Linked DNA regions of Homo sapiens: region 2 is linked to region 1. A link means that fine-mapping ties the variant in region 1 to the expression of a gene that starts in the linked region. Tissue or cell type: whole blood. Region 1 holds a variant in brackets; the other region holds the start of a gene. All regions are shown on one strand. Distances are between the middles of the regions.

Region 1 (2,760 bases):
CCAAAACCATGTGAAGTTTTTCATTAATTCTAAGTGTAAAGTGGTCCTAAAATTGTCTAGAAGTAAGCTGATGATATACTGATGGTATTAGTTTCTGAACCCATCCACTACAGTAAAGGGCTGGTTTCTGCCCATGTGAAGTAATTTCTCTATTTCTCATTTTCAGAGATATGATCATAACAAGAATGATAAGATTCTTCCAATCAGTCTCGAGCCATCCTCAAGCACTGAGCCTACTCAGTCTAACCTAAGGTAAGATGATGTACTATAGAAAGACACAGTAATTCAGGAGCTTCAGCCATTTCATTATTCCATGTCTTCGTTCATAAAATAGTGAGTCTTCAGACTCTTAGAATTTATTAACTTGACAAGAGAGATGTTCAGTTAGTCTCCAGAATGTATACATTTCCTCTCCTTCCATCCACCTAAGGTCATATACTCCCCATTTACAGAATCATTCCCTCGAAAAAGACTGGGTGTAGCTACTACACACCAACCCTTGTGCTTGGCACTAAAATTACAAAGACAGGTCAGTCATTACCCTAAAAACAAGCATTTTAATAAGGCCTTGGGTCTCTTTGGCATTTGTCATTATATACTAATTTTTCCCCAATCTTAAGTTCCCTTATACAAAATTTTAGTTTGCAGATGTTTGATTCTATGTACCATTGCAACAGCCATAACAGTTTTGGTTCTAGTTTGTACAAATTGTTAGTTATTTGAAGTTTAAAACAGGAGAACTAAGGGTTGGGTAGAGGAAGGGGAAGTTAAGTGGATGGTTGAGCAGAAGTAGAAGGTGGGTTTTTTGTTTGTTTGTTTTTTGTTTTGTTTTGTTTTGCCTTGTAGCCTAGGGAGACATTTTAGCAATAACAATAACAATAGCCAGGATTTATTGAGCTTACGCTGAAGCAGGCACTGTGCTAAACACTTTATTTGCAGTGTGTCATTTACTTATGGCTGAGATCACACAGATGGCAAATAACACTCAGGATTTAAAGCCAGGTCTATTAGACCTCAAAATTCAGTCTTGTAGTTACTACTTCAAAGAAGCCCCAGGCTGTAAATGCAGGACTAAAACCTGTTCCGGGGCAGGGGAAGAAAATACGTGAAGGAGCATCAGTGATACATAAGGATCAGAAACCAACAATTCTAAAGTCAGGAAAGTGATGCCTATTTGGGTGGAGTACCAAGCAGGGGAAATAAATGCCTTTCTTGTATATTATCTGCACCAAACAAAACAGATTTACAAGCATCTCATTAAACCCAAGGGAAGGTGTTCCTGAAATGTTTTCAGGAATGGTAAATTGGTAAATTTAAATTCATTCTATAGTTATTCATTTAAGTTTAATATGATTTTTTTTTTTTATTTCGTGCTCTAGGGAATTAAGGGACTTCTGTAGAGTCACTGGGAGCATATATCCACTGTGTTATTTTCCTCATAAGATTTGAACCTCCTTGATCACAGATTGATTTCCATGAAGGTTTTCATAAATCTAACTAACTCCTATTTGAAAGAGATGACTGCATTTATGCTTGGTGGTCTTCATGTTACAATGAACATGTCTTTAGTTTCTTATGATTTGTATATGCCACTTGTTTACAAGATAGCCTAG[G/C]GTTTTCCATCTATTTTTTTATCCAGAGGACCTCAGCTTACATCTCTCTATTAACATCTATGCCTAATGAGAGAAGGTTGCTTCCCTGTGACTTATACAAAATCAGTGACCAGCTGTGGCATTAATGGAAGAGGGGCCAGAATGCATCTCGGTAATATATCAGTGTTCTTTTTCTTGTAACTTAGTTTTTAAATTTCTCGCCCATGTATACCTTTCGAGGATCTCCAAAAGCCCATGTATATACTCCTTCCAAGTTTCTCTCACTGGCCATAGACCATTAACGCATCAAGAATGGAAAATGAAGGTAGCCATAGGCCAAAAAATACCTACTCCCTGAGTGCTCTGCATTCTGATCCAGGGATAGCAATGATCTCAATCAAAAGCAAATTCCTCGCAACTTCTCTAAGATCTCCTCTCCCTTCCTGTACAATATAGGACTATTCAGCTCTTAACTTGATGGAGAAGAAAAAATGAGGGCTTTGGTGATGAGTTGAATCCTCACTACAGTTTGTTAACTGTGTGAACCTTGATCATATCACCACCTCTGCATTTGTTTCTGTATCTATAAAACATGCATGATAACCCATGTAGAGCCATTGCAAGGATTAAAAACATTATAAGTAGGTCGAGTGCAGTGGCTCATGCCTGTAATCCCAGCATTTAGGGAGGCTGAGGCAGGAGGATTACTTGAAGCCAGGAGTTCAAGACCAGCCTGGACAACATAGTGAGACTCCATCTCTACAAAAAAAGTTAAAAAAATCAGATGGGGCTGGGCGCGGTAGCTCACGCCTGTAATCCCAGCACTTTGGGAGGTCAAGGCGGACGGATCACGAGGTCAAGAGATTGAGACCATTCTGGCCAAAATGGTGAAACCCTGTCTCTACTAAAAGTACAAAAATTAGCTGGGCGTGGTGGCGCTTGCTACCTGTAATCCCGGCTACTTGGGAGGCTGAGGCAAGAGAATTGCTTGAACCTGGGAGGCGGAGGTTGCAGTGAGCCGAAATCACACCACTGCACTCCAGCCTGACGACACAGCGAGACTCCATCTCAAAACAAAAACAAAAACAAATTCAGATGGATGTGGTGGTGTGTGCCTGTAGCCCTACCTACTCACGAGGCTGAGGCAGTAGGGTTGCTTGAGCTCAGG
Region 2 (2,760 bases), 21 kb before region 1:
TCCTTGGCCATCTCCTACAGCCCAACTAGGTCAAGTGTCCTGTAGTCTGCTTTCATAGCACCCTTTACTTCATCATAGCACTTAATTCTTAACAATACAAGCTAACATTTGTGTAATTATTTGATTGTCTAATTCCCTCCATATGACTCTAAGTACTACAAGGACTAATCTATGATTTTCTTGTTCACTGCTGTATCCCCAGTACCTGGTACATTGCCAGAACACAGAAGACACTGTGAATGTGATGAATACATCAGTGAAAGTCCAGAAAGATAAATTCCTTATCCAGGGTAAACCAGAATCGGATGGGAATCTACCCTTACTATTATGGTAGGTTCTGGGCTTCCCAGCGTTGCCTCCACTGTCTCTGGTTTGCCAGATTTTTGCTTAGAGATAGTAGATGATGTTCTTCTCTAAATGCAGTACCAGGTAAAGAAAGGTACTTGTAGTATCTGACTATACACAGAATCATTATGCACCTGGCACGGCCAAAGAAGGAATGAGACACTTTAACAGGTAGAGAAAGGGCTTTTGCCTAAGAGTTAAGAGATCTGGATTCCAGTATGCCTACCTTATCACTCCCTGCCATCTGCCATTTAGATTCATAATCACACGTATTCAAAAAGCATTTGCGGCAGCTCTACCACTGACTTGTGACTTGTACCAAGTGATTTCTCCTACGTAGATTTTGTTTCAACCATAAAATGAAGGGGTCAGATCAGGTTTTCATTCTTTCCAACTATAAAGCTTTCCAAAATGGGGGGAAATGCAACAGTGTGGTTTAAAACAAAATAAAGGCACTAAACTTAGAGAAAACTCCGAGTCTTGGTTCCAGCACTTCCTAGGCACGTGACCTTAAATCGGTCAAACTCTCAGGACTTCCGTCTCATCTGTAAAACGTAAATGACAATACTATTTGTCAGGGTTAAGTAAATGGAGAAGGGCTACTGAAATGACAACTGTTTTGCCACTGGGTGGCACAGAGTGGTGGTTAAAAGTCCAGGCTTAGGAGTCGGATAGCCCTAGGTCTGAATTTAAGCGCCCTCACTTTCTGACCGCGTGACCCTGGTAAAATTACCTATGTGAGCTTCCGTTTCTTCATTATGGGAGATAATAATATCTACTCCTATGGGATTGTTCTGAAACTCAAACGTTCCCGTCAAGTGTGCGGCTACTCTTTAGTAAGTTCCTCCAGCATCCCCTAAATTCCTAGCTGGTAAAAGGAGCCCCGCCCCCACCCCATGAGACTCGCTCCAATGCCACAGGTCCCGCCCTCAGCCTTAAAGGTCAAGCTGGACTCGAACGGGTCGGGGACGGTAGTCTGGTCCCCTGAGGTCCCCCAGAGGTCCCTGAGTAAGGGTCTCTGGCACCCAGACCACACGCGCCCCTCGAGGCCCTGTCAAGGACACTCACCAGCTATCGCCCAGGTTACTAAGGAAAGACTCGTGCGACGGCGGCGACCGCAGCTGCGCGGACGTCGTGACGTCACGAAGCCAGGAGGCGGCGCAGGCTTAACGCGTCACGGGCGGCCTGGCAGCTGGCGGCATTGAGGCGGACGCGTCTAGAGGTCCGTCTGACCGCGGCGTCGGGACCTGGTTTCCGGGCATGAGCTGAGAGCACCACGCCGAGGCCACGAGGTGAGTTCGGCCGCGACATGTCCCTGCACCTCAGCGATGGGCCCGCTAAGAGGTCTTACAGGAGGCCGCCCTCGCAGGACTGCATCTCAGGCCCCGCCCCGGATTGTCCTGTCGCTGGCCCGGAAATAACAATCCGAGTAATGACCCTTCGCCTGTAGGAATTCGCAGCCAGAAATCGGGAAGCCAGGGTTCCAGGCATGACCCCACCGCTTGCTGTTAGGATCAGGTGTCTCTTCTTCTCTGGATTGCACTTTCCCCAGATGACTATTTCTGGCTTCCAGAGTTATTGCAGCTCAGCTGGAAAGACAAATGTAACCGCGTTTTGTGAACTCTGGTAGTCTAAAGGATTGTTGCTATTGCAAACGCAAAGCATTTTGATAGTCCCGTGCCGTCTTGATCTTTTATTACCCTTTACCTTTCCTCAAAAAGCCATATTCTGAGCTGTCACCAAAATTGTCTTATTTAAGACTCACAACGACCTCGTGAGACGACAAATTGTACCCATTCTAGGAAGGAAAAAGAAACTAAGTCTTCGAGTGGAGAAGCGGCTTGCTTCATTTAGTAAATATTAAGCACCAACCGTGAGACAGGCAGTGTACTTAAGTGCTAGAAATAGAACCGTGATCAAGATTGGCAAGGTCCTGTGCTGTGGGAGCTTACGTTCTAGTGAAGGAAATAGAAGAGGAAACATTAAGTAATACATTGAATTAGCATTTAGTAGGAGGAAAAAGATGGAAAAGTGGCTATGATATAGAATAACAAGGAACTCTGTTTAGGAAAGCTTTTCTATCGAGAGGATGCTTAAAGAAAGGTCATGTGACTTGCTAAAGGTGCAGTTACTAGGTGCAAAAGTCAGGATTTGAACCCAGACCCGCATAGCCTGCACTCTTACCAGTAAAACATGGTACCTTTTCGTGGTAATAAATATTAATAGCTATTGGTATTATTCCTGATTTTAGACATGAGAAAATCAGAATGTCCTATCATTCAAGTCCCAAATGTCATCTCCTTTAGAGAGGCCTTCCCTCCACTCAATCTATAGTCGTCGAGTCCCTGTCACATCACCCTGCTTAATTGTGTTTGTGGCATGTATCACTAATTATATCTTCTTTATTTATTTTGC

What was found. PIP is the estimated chance that this variant, and not a neighbour inherited with it, causes the effect.
Region 2: it holds the start of RBM18, and the variant in region 1 is fine-mapped to the expression of RBM18 in whole blood (INTERVAL, PIP above 0.99).

What each region holds. Positions count from the first base shown.
Region 1 is chr9:122,242,748-122,245,507 of GRCh38, reverse strand. It overlaps RBM18 (RNA binding motif protein 18), which reads left to right. Exons shown (of 6, transcript NM_033117.4): 5 at 167-252. Among named protein-coding and RNA genes, the nearest start is that of LHX6, 15 kb to the right of the region's middle. The variant G/C (reference allele first, on the strand shown) is at 1,614.
Region 2 is chr9:122,263,592-122,266,351 of GRCh38, reverse strand. RBM18 (RNA binding motif protein 18) reads left to right here and starts at 1,512. Exons shown (of 6, transcript NM_033117.4): 1 at 1,512-1,637. It overlaps MRRF (mitochondrial ribosome recycling factor), which reads right to left and starts at 1,470. Exons shown (of 7, transcript NM_138777.5): 1 at 1,414-1,470. RefSeq lists enhancers at 1,053-1,212, 388-1,358, 781-1,980, 1,359-2,330.